2 separate regions of the Homo sapiens genome follow, and region 2 is linked to region 1. The links come from fine-mapping of genetic effects on gene expression. Tissue or cell type: subcutaneous fat. Region 1 holds a variant in brackets; the other region holds the start of a gene. All regions are shown on one strand. Distances are between the middles of the regions.

Region 1 (8,107 bases):
ATTAGCCCATTGAACCAGACTTTGGAATTCTAGTCTCCAGAACTTCGAGAAAATTAATTTGTGGTGTTTCAAGCCATAACGTTTGTGGTAATTTGTTACAGCAGGAACAGAAAACTAATTTGGACGTAATTTCAGCAATTCTCATTCTCTCTTTCCTGCATCATCAGTTTTTTTTCTCTCTGCTAAGTTCTCCCTAAGAGCACACAGGCATGCTGTTTTTACTGTCATCACAAAAATAACCCTCATTTTACTCCGTTTTCTTCTTCGGTGGTTGCTCAATCGTCTGGTCCCCTTTACAGGCCATTATTTGAACATGTTCTACACTCTGTATCTAATTACTCTCATCCTACACTTTATTGAATGCACACTATTCTGACTCTTGCCTCCATCATGCTATCAAAACATTCTTGACTTTGTAAAGGTCAATAGTCAATGCCAATGGTCAATGTTGAGACTCCATCTTACTTGTCCTATTAATAGCATTTGACTCTTTTCTTAAAACAATTTCTTCATCTGACTTCTAGGACAGAACAGTCTCACTTTGTCTTGTAATTTCATCACCACTCATCAGTCTTCTTTCCTCATACATGCCATTCCATTACCATGTAGGGGCCTGGGAAATGTGAAATTTGAAATTGGAAAATTGCCCAACACAGTATAACAATGCTGGCATGTGATCACTTCCCTGGGGTCCTGAGACTGGGCTGACCCAACCAGATGACACCAATATAGCTGATACCAACACAGAAGTGCTGAAAGGTGGAGCCTCTCCTTCTATCTCCATGAAGAAGCAGCATTACCACCTCACACTACATGAGAGCCACAAAGCTGTCTATATTGAACTGGGTGAAGAGGTTCTACCCCAATTATCACTTCCTTAGAGAGCTATGGGACAGTAGTTTTTTATTTTATGGCTCTCAGCTACACTGTGGCCTGGAGATAGACAGCAGTGTGCATCTGAACTGAGAGTCACAAGGCCCAAGACAGGGATGTATTAGGGAAACAGATTGTGTTACTGACTACCCAGGTTGTGGATCAGTGCAGTTTCCTAACCCCCACAGAGAACTTCATGCTTTACAACAGAAGTTTCTCTGGTAACCTCTCTTTGGGCTGGTGCCTGTGCTCATCACTGGGGTATTTGCAGGTAATTAAGCTACTCCAGCTCTACCCAGATATATCTCTGTCACACACTGAATAGGAAGCTCAGGGCACTGATCATTCCACGGTCCATCCCATCACTTGAAACAACAGAAAGCCTCACACAGTAAACAAAGATCGAGTATATACCCATCTGCTTTGGCACAGCTGGCTCTTACTCATAAGTACCCTCTACTGGCCTGTGAATTGAACTGCGCAACTCAATGTAAAAACCTACCAACACAAGTGCCATAGGGCTATTGAAGCAAAGCCAAAATACACTACTCATGACACTCTACAATCACACCCTCAAGGGCAGAGGTATAAAGCAAAAATAGAGAAAAGAATTCCATCGGAATGAATGTAAATTCAAACCAAGAACTCTCGGCTTCTCCAAATGAGAAAAAAATCCAGTACAAGAATTCTTGCACCATAAAAAATCTGAATGTTGTGGTACTGTCAAAAAATTACACTAAGTCTCCAGCAATGGACTCTAATCAAAATAAAATTGAGAAACGTCAGGTATAGAATTCAAAGTATGGATTATAAGAAAGCTCAATAAGATCCAGAGAAGGTCAAAAACAAACACAAAGAAACTACAAAAGCAATCAAGGAAAGAAAAAAAGATATACTTATTTTGGGAAAAAACCAAAAATTTGAAAACAAAAAAATTCACTGAAGGAATTTTAAAATACAGTTTAAATCTTTGAGAGTAGACTAAACCAGCAGAAGAAAGCATTTCATATCTTGAAGACTAGTCTTTCAAATTAATCCAGTCAGAAATTTAAAAAAGAAAATAATTGTTATAAATGAACAAAGGCTTTGAGAAATATGGGATTATATAAAGCCATCAAATCTACAACTAATAAGCATTTCTAAGGAAGATGAAGAGAAGTAAGAAGTTTGAAAAACATAGTAGAAGAAATAATGCAGAAATATTTTCTTTATCCTGATAGACATTTAGAAATGAGATTCAAAAAATTCAGAGAATACCTGAAAGATACTATGCTAAATGTACATCGACAAGGCATACAGTCACCAGACCACCCAAGGTCAATAAGAATGAACAAATTTTAAAAGCAGCTACAGAGAAGCTACAAATCACCTCTAAAGAAAATCCTATTATACTAAACAGATTTAACAGCAGAAAACCTAAAAGTCGGAAGATATTGGGGGCCTATTTTTAGCCTTTTTATAGAAAAAAATGGAGAAATCATCTTTCACAGACAAGCAAATTTTAAGGGAATTTGTCACCACTAGACTAGCCCTTCAGGAAATGCTCAGAGGAATCTTAAATATAAAAATATTATGATACCATCATAAAAGGACATGAAGTACACAGGTCATAATTACTATACAGTAATTGCACAATTGAGTCTCTAAAGCAATTGGCTAACAAGACCATGACAGAAACAAAAGCTCATATATCTAGGTTAACCTTGAGCATAAATTACCTAAATCCTCCACTTAAAAGAAATAGAACAGAAAATTTGATAAAAGGACAAGACCCAACAGCTTTTATCTACAGGAGATCTACCATTAGGTCTAATGACACCTACAGATTTGTTTTCATTTACATGATATATCAATGTCAGCAAGCAGGACTAGCCATTCTTATACTAGATAAAACAGACTTTTATACCAATGATATTTTAAAAAGACAGAGAAGAGCATTATATTATAAAGATTCCATACAGCAAGAAGATTTAACCATCCTAAATATAAATGTATTCAATATTGGAGCACCCAGATTCATAAAAGAAATACTACTACACCTAAGAAAACAGACTGGGAGAAGTACAATAATAGTAAATGACATCAACACCCCACTTATAAATGTTGCAGATCATTGAGACAGAAAATCAGCCAAAAAAAAAACTCTCTGGACTTAAGCTGGAATATGAACCAAATGGACATCATAATCATTTACAGAACATTCTACCTAACAACTACAGAATACACATTTTTCTCACCTGCACATGAACCATTCTCAAAAATTGACCACATCCTTGGTTATAAAGCAAGTCTCAATAAAATTAAAAACTCAAAATCATATCAAGTATTTTTTCAGACTGCAGTTGAATAAAACTAGAAATCAATATCAAGAGGAACTCTCAAAGCTATACAAGTGCATGAAAAATTAAACAATGTGTCCCTGAACAACTTTTGGGTAAAGAATGAAATTCAGAATTCAACAGATTTTTTGAAATGAATGAAAATAGACATACAACATGCCAAAATCTCTCGGATATGGGAAAGCAGTGCTAAGAGATAAATTTATAGTGTTAAACCCTCCCTGAAAAGATAGAAAGACCTCAAACTCACCACCTAAAGTCACTTCTAAGGAACTAGAAAAATAAGAGCAAACCAAGCCCAAAGTTAGCAGAAGAAAAGAAATAAGAATGGTCACACCATAACTAAATGAAATTGAGACAAGAAAAAAAATAGGTATAAAGGATCAATGAGACAAAAATTTGGTTCTTTGAAAGGATAAACAAAATTGATAGTCAGCTAGCTAACAAAGAAAAAAAAAGAATATTCAAAAAAATACAATACAGAAAAGATAAAGGTGAGGCTGGACAAAGTGGCTTACGTCTGTAATCCCAGCACTTAGGGAGGCTGAGGCAGGGTCACTTGAGGTCAAGAGTTCGAGACTAGCCTGGCCAACATGGTGAAACCCCGCCTCTACTAAAAATACAAAAAACAGTAGCCAGGCATGGTGGTGT[G/A]TGCCTGTAATCTCAGCTACTTGGAAGGCTGAGGCAGAAGAATCGCTTGAACCTGGGAGGTCAAGGTTTCAGTGAGCTGAGATTGCCCCACTGCCCTCCAGCCTGGGCAACAGAGCGAGCCTCAAAAAAAAAAAAAAAAGAAAGAAATGATAAAGGTGACATTAAAACTGATATCAGAGAAATACAAGAGAGTATCAGTGACTCCTGTAAACATTTCTATGTGCACAAACTAGAAAATATAGAGACTTTGTCACCACCAGGCCTGCCCTAAAGGAGCTCCTGAAGGAAGCACTAAACATGGAAAGGAACAAACGGTACCAGCCACTGCAAAAACATGCCAAATTGTAAAGACCAGCGAGGCTAGGAAGAAACTGCATCAACTATCGAGCAAAATAACCAGCTAACATCATAATGACAGGATCAAATTCACACATAACAATACTAACTTTAAATGTAAATGGTCTAAATGCTCCAATTAAAAGACAGACTGGCAAATTGGATAAAGAGTCAAGACCCATCAGTGTGCTGGAAACCCATCTCACATGCAGAGACACACATAGGCTCAAAATAAAGGGATGGAGGAAGATCTATCAAGCAAATGGAAAACAAAAAAAGGCAGGGGTTGCAATCCTAGTCTCAGATAAAACAGACTTTAAACCAACAAAGATCAAAAGAGACAAAGAAGGCCACTACATAATGGTAAAAGGATCAATTCAACAAGAAGAGCTAACTATCCTAAATATATATGCATCCAATACAGGAGCACCCAGATTCATAAAGCAAGTCCTTAGTGACCTACAAAGAGACTTAGATTCCCACACAATAATAGTGGGAGACTTTAACACCCCACTGTCAACATTAGACAGATCAACGAGACAGAAAGTTAACAAGGATACCCAGGAATTGAACTCAGCTCTGCACCAAGCGGACCTAATAGACACCTACAGAGCTCTCCACCCCAAATCAATAGAACATACATTCTTTTCAGCACCACACCACACCTACTCCAAAATTGACCACATAGTTAGAAGTAAAGCTCTCCTCAGCAAATGTAAAAGAACAGAAATTATAACAAACTGTCTCTCAGATCACAGTGCAATCAAACTAGAACTCAGGATTAAGAAACTCACTCAAAACTGCTCAACTACATGGAAACTGAACAACCTGCTCCTGAATGACTACTGGGTACATAACAAAATGAAGGCAGAAATAAAGATGTTCTTTGAAACCAATGAGAACAAAGACACAACATACCAGAATCTCTGGGACACATTCAAAGCAATGTGTAGAGGGAAATTTATAGCACTAAATGCCCACAAGACAAAGCAGGAAAGATGTAAAACTGACACCCTAACATCACAATTAAAAGAGCTAGAAAAGCAAGAGCAAACATATTCAAAAGCTAGCAGAAGGCAAGAAATAACTAAGATCAGAGCAGAACTGAAGGAAATAGAGACACAAAAAACCCTTCAAAAAATTAATGAAACCAGGAGCTGGTTTTTTGAAAAGATCAACAAAATTGATAGACTGCTAGCAAGACTAATAAAAAAGAAAAGAGAGAAGAATCAAATAGACGCAATAAAAAATGATAAAGGGGATATCACCACCGATCCCTCAGAAATACAAACTACCATCAGAGAATACTGTAAACACCTCTATGCAAATAAACTAGAAAATCTAGAAGAAATGGATAAACTCCTTGACACATACATCCTCCCAAGACTAAACCAGGAAGAAGTTGAATCTCTGAATAGACCAATAACAGGCTCTGAAGTTGAGGCAATAATCAATAGCTTACCAACCAAAAAAAGTCCAGGACCAGATGGATTCACAGCTGAATTCTACCACAGGTACAAAGAAGAGCTGGTACCGTTCCTTCTGAAACTATTCCAATCAATAGAAAAAGAGGGAATCCTCCCTAACTCATTTAATGAGGCCAGCGTCATCCTGATACCAAAGCCTGGCAGAGACACAACAAAAAAAGAGAATTTTAGACCAATGTCCCTGATGAAATCGATGCAAAAATCCTCAATAAAATACTGGCAAACCGAATCCAGCAGCACATCAAAAAGCTTATCCACCATAATCAAGTGGGCTTCATCCCTGGGATGCAAGGTTGGTTCAACATATGCAAATCAATAAATGTAATCCAGCATATAAACAGAACCAAAGACAAAAACCACATGATTATCTCAATAGATGCAGAAAAGGCCTTTGACAAAATTCAACAACGCTTCATGCTAAAAACTCTCAATAAATTAGGTATTGATGGCACATATCTCAAAATAATAAGAGCTATCTATGACAAACCCACAGCTAATATCATACTGAATGGGCAAAAACTGGAAGCATTCCCTTTGAAAACTGGCACAAGACAGGGATGCCTTCTCTCACCACTCCTATTCAACAGTGTTGGAAGTTCTGGCCAGGGCAATCAGGCAGGAGAAGGAAATAAAGGGTATTCAATTAGGAAAAGAAGAAGTCAAATTGTCCCTGTTTGCAGATGACATGATTGTGTATCTAGAAAACCCCATTGTCTCAGCCCAAAATCTCCTCAAGCTGATAAGCAACTTCAGCAAAGTCTCAGGATACAAAATCAATGTGCAAAAATCACAAGCATTCTTATACACCAATAAAAGACAAACAGAGAGCCAAATCATGAATGAACTCCTATTCATAATTGCTTCAAAGAGAATAAAATACCTAGGAATCCAACTTACAAGGGATGTGAAGGACCTCTTCAAGGAGAACTACAAACCACTACTCAATGAAATAAAAGAGGATACAAAGAAATGGAAGAATATTCCATGCTCATGGGTAGGAAGAATCAATATCATGAAAATGGCCATACTGCCCAAGGTAATTTATAGATTCAATGCCATCCCCATCAAGCTACCAATTACTTTCTTCACAGAATTGGAAAAAACTACTTTAAAGTTCATATGGAACCCAAAAAGAGCCCGCCTCACCAAGTCAATCCTAAGCCAAAAGAACAAAGCCGGAGGCATCATGCTACCTGACTTCAAACTATACTACAAGGCTACAGTAACCAAAACAGTATGGTACTGGTACCAAAACAGAGATATAGACCAATGGAACAGAACAGAGCCCTCAGAAATAATGCCGCATATCTACAACTATCTGATCTTTGACAAACCTGAGAAAAACAAGCAATGGGGAAAGGATTCCCTATTTAATAAATGGTGCTGGGAAAACTGGCTAGCCACATGTAGAAAGCTGAAACTGGATCCATTCCTTACACCTTATACAAAAATCAATTCAAGATGGATTAAAGACTTACATGTAGACCTAAAGCCATAAAAACCCTAGAAGAAAACCTAGGCAATACCATTCAGGACATAGGCTTGGGCAAGGACTTCATGTCTAAAACACCAAAAGCAATGGCAACAGAAGCCAAAATTGACAAATGGGACCTAATTAAACTAAAGAGCTTCTGATAGCAAAAGAAATTACCATCAGAGTGAACAGGCAACCTACAGAATGGGAGAAAATTTTTGCAGCCTACTTATCTGACAAAGGGCTAATATCCAGAATCTACAATGAACTCAAACAAATTTACAGGGAAAAAACAAACAACCCCATCAAAAAGTGGGCAAAGTATATGAACAGACACTTCTCAAAAGAAGACATTTATGCACCCAAAAAATACATGAAAAAATGCTCATCATCACTGGCCATCAGAGAAATACAAATCAAAACCACAATGAGATACCATCTCACACCAGTTTGAATGGTGATCATTAAACAGTCAGGAAACAACAGGTGCTGGAGAGGATGTGGAGAAATAGGAACACTTTTACACTGTTGGTGGGACTGTAAACTAGTTCAACCATTGTGGAAGTCAGTGTGGCGATTGCTCAGGGATCTAGAACTAGAAATACCATTTGACCCAGCCATCCCATTACTGGGTATATACCCAAAGGATTATAAATCATGCTGCTATAAAGACACATGCACACGTATGTTTATAGCGGCACTATTCACAATAGCAAAGACTTGGAACCAACCCAAATGTCCAACAACGATAGACTGGATTAAGAAAATGTGGCACCTATACACCATGGAATACTATGCAGCCATAAAAAATGATGAGTTCATGCCCTTTTTAGGGACATGGATGAAACTGGAAACCATCATTCTCAGCCAACTATCACAAGGACAAAAAACCAAACACCGCATGTTCTCACTCATAGGTGGGAATTGAACAATGAGAACACATGGAC
Region 2 (8,107 bases), 260 kb after region 1:
CAAGGGAAGGGACTAGAACTAGGGAAGACTATGGGGGTGGGCGGGTTTGCAGTCTCATTAAACTGAAGACTGACAAGGGCTTTATAGTTCACAAACCACTTTCTCACTGGAGCTTCACGGTAACCCTAGGAGTTAGAGCAGCATAATTATCTTCATTTTATAGGCAACAGATTCAGAGTGGTTGAAAGCTAATGAACCAAGTATCCATCTTAAGTTAGAAAAAGAACCCAAGAAATTGGATGGAAAGATAAAAATATGATTAAGAATAACATCAATAAAATAGAAAACAAAGATGTAACAGAGAAGATCAACAAAACCAGAAGTCAGTTCTTTGAAAAACTTCAGTAAAATAAACAGACTTCTGGCTAGGTTGATGAAGAGGCCAACTTTTTAAAAAACTGACACGAATGGACAGTAAAACATGCAGATAAAATGGACTTAAAAGAAAATATTACCAATAACTATATGTCAATAACTTGGAAAAATGAGATAAAATGGGAAAATTCCTAGAAAAATTTAACCCAAGAATAAAGCTTGAATAGTTACATAATTATTAAAGAATGCAAGGAATTCAAAAAAAAGAGAAAACCACCAGTTTCATAAAATTTTCAAGAAAAAAATCATCTCAGTTTAACACAGACTTTCAAACAACAGAAAAAGACGGACTTATCTCAACTCATTCTACAAAACTAGCATAACCCTGAATCAAAATCAGACAAAAATATTAAAAGTCACACATTCATCTTATTCATGAATACCGTTGCAAAATTCATAAGTAAAATAAAAGCAAATTGGATGCAACAATATTTATGAAAAGATAATATACCACACCCATGTTGAGTGTATCTCAGATATCTAAGGATGGTTTGATATTAGAAAATCTGTAATTCATCAATATTAACAGATTAAAGTACAAAAACAAAAGTCAACTCAATCAATATTTGTTAAGATTCAATACCAGTTTAGATTCAAAATCTAAACTCCCAGTAAGTCGGGGAAAAGAATTAATCTGATAAAGAGTATCAATATTAAAAAATATCCATCTTACATCCTTTAAAATCAGGTACAAAACAAGAATGGCCACTGTGCTGGAGGTGCTTTCCAGAAGCACCTGAACAACTAAGAAGAAGCAATTTTAAGCTTAAAGAGTGGAAAAAAAGGAAAGTAAACTACCATTATTTGCTGATGATATGATCATTTGTGTAGAAAATCCAAACAAATGTAACACAAATTAACAGAAATAACAGTACAGTTTAGTAAAGTGGCTGGAAGTGTAATGAATATAGCAGGTGAAACAAGTAGAAAATGTAACTTCAGAGAAATATAATTTCCAGTAGTATAACACACTATCAAGAACCCAATAATAATTCCAACAAAAGACATATATTCTCTTCAGGAAAAACTATACAACCATATGAAAAGATGTTAGAAATGAACCATATTCAGGACAATTTATTAACAGAGAAGAATACCATGCTTGTAGAAAAGTTAAGATTTAACATTACAAAGGTGTCAATTATCTCCAAGCTGGTCTACAGATTTAATGTAGTTCCAATCAAAACCCCAATAAAGTTTCTCATGGAACCTTCTAAGCTAGTTCTAAAACTTACAGTGGAGAGTAAGGTGCCAAAATAAAAAGCCAGGACCCAGGTACATGCATCTGTCAAAACTCATCAAATTGTACACTGTAAATCTACAACAGCAGGGAGAGGTGACCTGCCCTACTAGGTATGGGCGCTTATCAAGGAACTGTAGTAATTAAGACAGCACCGATCAGGCACACAGATGGATCAAGTGGCCCCTAATAATGAAGAGCCCAGGCTGAGGTCTCCAGACATCTCACCGCTCCCCTTGCTCTCTTGTGCTTCAGCCATCATCTTGAGAACACTCCCTAACTAACCGCACGAGGACAGGAGATGTGCGGAGCCAAGTGGAGTAGCCCCAACCATCCCAACTGAGCCCAGCCAAGGTCCACAGAGCTGCTCTCCTGACCTCCCGTGTGGGAGGAATACACTTGCTGCTGTACACCACTGAGGTCTGGTGTTTGGCCATTGATGCAGCATTTCTGGGGCAACAGATAACGGATAGGTCTGTGATGTTTATTCACTATTAAAAATAGACGAGTAAAAATAAGCCTTTGCATAGACCAGTGATGAGTGATTATGATTAATCCAATTTGATGCACCTGCAGTCCAAGAAAAATAAATAGAATATTTTGACCTGTTAAGCACAGTTTTCACTAATTTTTCCTTATCCTGTGTGCACGAAAGTCTGGACTCCTGCACCAAATTGTTGCAGAAATAAAGGGAAGCAAGAGACTCAACAGTTTAATCCATCGAGTGCTTACTGAATGAAGGGCTGACAGATGCACGTCCTTCACTAGATGCTGAGAACCAATATGAACAAAACGACACTCCTAGCCTCTAAGAGTTGGTAAGCAGGTAAGAGAAATAATTTAAATAATATTTTCATGAGCAGGCCTTGAACATTCTGACTCCTTCAGTAACTAACTTCCTATATGACTTCTTATAGCTTTTATCAACAACTAAGTTTAGCTTTTTTTTTTTAAAGATCAAATTTTAAACGCTTTTTAGTCAGTGCTGTCTCAAATCACTGGCAGGAATTGTGAAGTTCAAAGCAGAGAAAGGTCGTAGAATAGAATGGTGGTTATAAGACGCTGGGGGCTGGGGGAGGTGAGGAAGGAGGGAATGGGGAGTTGCTGATCAAAGGGTACAAAGTTTCAAACACACAGGAGACACAGCTTTTAAGACTTACTGCGCACTAGGATGCCAACAGTCAACAATAATTTACTACACATGTGTATTTCAAAATAACAAGACATTTCAAACATCTTACCACAAACAATAATAACTGAGAGAGGTGATAGATATGTTAATTAGCTTGATTTAACCACATTGCAATTGTATACACGGCTCAAAACATTACGCTGCACCCCATAAATGCACAGAGCGATTATATGTCTCAGGCATCAGGGCAGGTTGCTTCTAAACAGGGAACAACATGAGATCCCAAAGTTTCTTTTAAAGCCTAATCAGCAATTCCAATTTTCCTTTTTTCTTTTTTTTTTTTTTTTTTCCAGCAAGGTCTGGCTCTGTCCCCAAGGCTGGAGTGCAGTGGCGCCATCAAAGCTCACTGCAGCATCGACTTCCTGGTCTCCAGTGATCCTCCCACCTCAGCCTCCTGAGTAGCTGGGACCACAGGCGCGCACCCCCAAGCCCAGCTGATTTGTTCATTTTTTGTAGAAACAGGGTTTCGCCATGTTGACCTGGCTGGTCTTGAACTCCTGAGCTCAGGCGATCCTACTGCCTCGGCCTCCCAAAGTGCTGGGATTACAAGCCCGCACCCCACGCCCGGCCCCAACTTTTCTTTCTCTCTTTGCTGGAGAGGAGGCTTCGAGGTTCCCTGTTCCGGCCGAGTCCAGCGCCGCCAAGGCCTCCCCTCGGCATCCCCGCTCCAGTTCTGAGTAACTTCAAGGGCTCCGCCTCTCCACAGAGCAGCCCCGCCCAACGCCGCGGCCGCAGCCCCAGAGTCTGAGGCTTGGCTGCCGAGGTTCCCGCTTCTCCCAGAGAGCGCCTCGGCGGGCAGCACCGACTCCGTTTTAGGAAAGGCCGGGCCGGGCTGCTTGTGGGCGGTGGGCGGCCACCTCAGCAGCGCCTTTCCCGGGCGTCGGCCAGGCGGAGGGGAGGCCGCCGCACTTCTCCCCAGCCCCGGCCTGGGTCCCATCGGGCGCCCCCAAGTCCCGCGCTCCCCTAGGTCAGGCGCGCCTCCCTGCCCGCGACCGCGTCACCTTCCAGGAGCTGAGGCCCACGGCTGGGATATCTCCCATGGCCGCCGCCGGCCGCCCCGCCGCCCCGCCGCCCCGCACGCGACTACCGACAGGCACCGCGCGAGCTACTGCGGCGCTGGCGACCCGCCGTTGCGACTGGCTGGAAGTGCCTTGTGACGGCTGACACTCCGACAATGGCTGGAAGCATGAACGCAGGGCTTCCTGACTGGCTGCTGGTGTCGCGCGCCGGGCACTGACTGGCTGGTTGTATTAAGGACGGGCACCCCGATTGGCTGGAGGCGCAGAGCCAGCTGGAGTCCCAAATGGCTGGAAGCACCGCGCTCTGGACATCCTGATTGGCTGGCGGCATAGACGACGGAATTTTCGATTGGCTTGCAGAGCCACGCAGGAGCAGGGAAGGTTTTACAATCGGCTGGCATTGCCGCTCACGCCCCCACCTTAGGTGTGACCTCCTGGTTGCCTTCTCCCTCGCACCGGGTGCATATGCGACTGAGGGTAGGGCAGAGGTGCTAGGTTGATGGGCAGAGAGTCTTCACCGTTCCAGGGCCTCGCCATGGCCGGGCCATCCTAGGGCAAGCTCTAGGGTCAGGGTGCAGAGTCCTGCGTCCCCTGGGGCACAGGGTGCGCGGGAGTGGGTCCCCGCTCTCTTGTACCAAGGATGGCCATTCTCAGGTGCCCCGAGGCCCCCAGTCTGGGAGAAGCGTGCCTGGCCTTGGTTCCCCGTCAGGGAGCCACTGTGCCCTTGGAAAATGCCTTCCACTCCCTGGGTCCTGGCCCAGAGCGGCTGGGGCTTGCAGGACAGCGGGGGTCCTGGGTGGTGCAGGGGAGGCCGAGCCCTGCATGTAGAGGGGAGCGTCCTTGCTTGCAGCCTCGGGCCCCCGTTTGGAAGTGGATGGGGTGGACTGGACACCCCCCTTATGAGTGGACTGGGCTCCCCCAGGGCCAGTGGAGGGAAAGAGGGGTCAAGGGAGCCTTCCGACGCCCCTCTTATCTCTCCTGGAGCTTACAGCTCCCCCTTCATTGCCCCCCTCAGCCCTGGGAGTCCTACTGCCTTGAGGACACCCACACCCAGATGAGGGCTTTGTTTCTAGGTTCCTTGCCTGGGTCTTCAGTGCTGGCCATCAGGGGAGGCGCTGCCCATTCTGCTCAATGGGGCGGCTGCAGCCAGAGAAACTCCCAGGGTCACTCTGGGTGTCCCCCTGCCTCCCACCCAACTTGCATCTCCTGTGAGCATCCATCTCCTCAATGTGAGCTCCTCACAGGTGGGAAGGGGGATCTTCGATACTCTCATTTATTCATTCAGAAACTGTGCCTGGAGCACTCACCTGTGCACGGGGCAAGTTAGGCCAGGGTGCAGTGCTGAAAATGACCTGCATGGGCCTTGCCCTCAGGAGCTCACCATCTGTAGGAATGAATGGACAGAGCATAAAAGCAAATGCATGAGAAAAAAAAAGAGCAGGTGCTATAGTAAAATAAAGCAGGTGCTTGTGGTGAGAGGCGGAAGGGACAGAGTGAGGGAATCCTCAACACCTCAATGAAGTGGCATTTATGCTGCAAACAGAAAGGCAAAGAGTGAGGGAACCAGCCCTGCACAAGTCTGGGAACAGTATTCCTGGGGGAAGCTCTACTGCACTGCAATCGTGTATCATGCTATTTCATTGTTTTAACAGAAATTCCATAAGTCTATGACGTTGAGCATCTTTTACTCTGCTTCTTTGCTATCTGTATATCTTTGATAAGGTGTGTTTTCAGGTCTTTTGCCCATTTTTTATTTGGGTCATTCATTTTCTTATTGTTGGATTTTAAGAGTTCTTTGTGTATTTTGGATAAGAGTCCTTTATTAGATGTGTCTTTGTAAATATTTTCTCCCAGTCTGTCTGTAACTTGTCTTTTCATTTCCTTGACATTGTCTTTAGCAAAATAAAAAAATTTTTATTTTAACGAAGTGAGCTTATCAATTATTTCTTTCATGGCTCATCCCTTTGATGTTGTATTTTAAAAGTCATTGCAAAGACATAAGAATTATATAATGGACTTCGGGGACTCAGGGGGAAGGCTGGGAGGGGAGTGAGAGATAAAAGACTACACATTGGGCACAATGTACACTACTCTGGTGATGGGTGCACCAGAATATCAGAAATCACCACTAAATAACTTTTCCATGCAACCAAACACTACTTGTCGCCCCAAAACAATTGAAATAAAAATTAAAATTAAAAAATCAGAGACTAGACAGAAAAAAATTAAAATAAAAATTAGTAAATTAGAATATCCTGGAACACAGTAATCAATATAAAAAATAAAAATAAAAAAAATCACTAAACCCAAGATCATCTAGATTTTCTCTTATTTTCTAGAAGTTTCATAGTGTTGTGTTTTACATTTAGGCCTTCGATCCACTTTGAGTTAATTTTAATGAAGAGTGTGAGATCTGTGTCTGGATTTATTTTTTTGCATGTGGATGTCCAACATCATTTGTTGAAAAGACTGAAAGTTCTCCAGTGTATTGCCTTTGCTCCTTTGTCAAACATCAGCTTATTATATTTGTGGTGATCTATTTCTGTGCTATTTTGTTCCATTGATCCATTTGCCTGTTTCATAAATACCACACTGTCTTGATTACTGCAGTAGATTTATTGTAAGTCTTGAGGTCAGGTAGTGTGAGTCCTCTAACTTTGTTCTTTTCCTTCAATATTGAGTTATCTATTCTGTGTCTTTTGCTTCTTCATATGAACTATGGATTCAGTTTATCCACAAAATAATTTAGTAAGATTTTGATGAGATTACACTGAATGTTTAGATCAGTTTGGGGAGAGCTGATGTCTTGACAATATTGAGTCCTTGTATTCATGAACATGGAATATCACTCGATTTATTTATTTATTTTTACATCTTTCATCAGAGTTTTGTAGTTTTCCTATATAGGACTCATATGTATTTTGTTAGATTTATACATAAGTATTTCATTTTCGGGGGTGCTAATGTAAATGGTACTGTGCTTTTAATTTCAAATACCACTTGTTGAATTCTGGTATATAGGAAAATAGTTGATTTTTGTATATTAATCTTGTCTTCTGCAACCTTGCTATAATTGCTTAGTAGTTTCAGAAGCTTTTCATCAATTCTTTGGAAATTAAATTAAGATAGCAAATAATGTCACCTGTGAACAAAGACAGTTTAATTTTTTTCTTCCCAAACTGTATATCTTTTTTTTTTTTTTTTTTTTTTTTTTTAGACAGAGTCTCACTCTGTCACCCAGGCTGGAGTGCAGTGGCGGGATCTCGGCTCACAGCAACCTCTGCCTCCTGGGTTCTAGCGATTCTCCTGCCTCAGCCTCATGAGTAGCTGGGATTACAGGCATGCATCACTATGCCTGGCTAATTTTTATGTTTTTAGTAGAGATGGGGTTTCATCTTGTTGGTCAGGGTGGTCTCAAACTCCTGACCTCATGATCCACCCTCCTTGGCCTCCCAAAGTGCTGGGATTACAGGCGTGAGCCACTGCACCCAGCCTGTATACCTTTTAGTTCCTTTTTTGTCTTATTATATTAGTTAGGATGTCCAGTACAGTGTTGAGAAGGAGTGGTGAGGGGACATTTTTTGCCTTTTCTTGGTAGAAGTGCTTTTTAACAGTACAGTTTCCCCATATGTGCCCTATTGAATCAGAAGGTTATGGTGGGTGTTTGGGACCTTTGGTCTGGAAGATTTCTAACGGCCTCATTGACAGATGCATTTGTATGTCATGGTATAACTTCACACTCAAAATACTTTTGTCTTTGTTATGGCATTCTGCTATAGCTGCTAAGATGCTGAGGCTTAAGAAATTCTTCATGAACACTTATTACCTCGCTCTCAGCTATTGTCTTTTTACCCTTGTCACTGTCTTTAGTGGATACTGGGATTTGCTGATTGTAATTGTCGTCCTGGTGATCTGCTTCCTGTGTGATATACTAGATCCATTAGTGTCTCCTGCATATCCCGTGGCTGGGGGTGTGGAGAGTAATAGATAAGATAGCCTCCCATGGAAGTAGCTAAAGGGTTTGTGTGTTTGGGAGACGAGATTAGGAAAGTTCACAAGTAATAATATAAACTAGAATAAAAAAATAGCGTGGGATAAATATAAATGATATTCAGTGGGACTCTAAAAGGAAGAAATTGTATGAAGTTGTGAGGGATAAATGATTATTGAAATCAGCCTTCAAGATAAGAAGTACTGATGAATAGAAATGGGGAGAAATAATTTTTTGGTGGTTGAGCAGTTTTATTTAAAGATTCTCAACATATAACACATTGTCAAGGG

The links. PIP is the estimated chance that this variant, and not a neighbour inherited with it, causes the effect.
Region 2: it holds the start of AKR1E2, and the variant in region 1 is fine-mapped to the expression of AKR1E2 in subcutaneous fat (FUSION, PIP 0.95).

Annotation. Positions count from the first base shown.
Region 1 is chr10:5,083,276-5,091,382 of GRCh38, reverse strand. It overlaps a transcript of AKR1C3 not described here. Among named protein-coding and RNA genes, the nearest start is that of AKR1C3, 7.1 kb to the left of the region's middle. RefSeq lists a silencer at 1,192-1,486. The variant G/A (reference allele first, on the strand shown) is at 3,864.
Region 2 is chr10:4,822,065-4,830,171 of GRCh38, reverse strand. It overlaps AKR1E2 (aldo-keto reductase family 1 member E2), which reads right to left and starts at 3,965. Exons shown (of 10, transcript NM_001040177.3): 1 at 3,809-3,965. The coding sequence starts at 3,847. RefSeq lists a silencer at 3,459-3,538.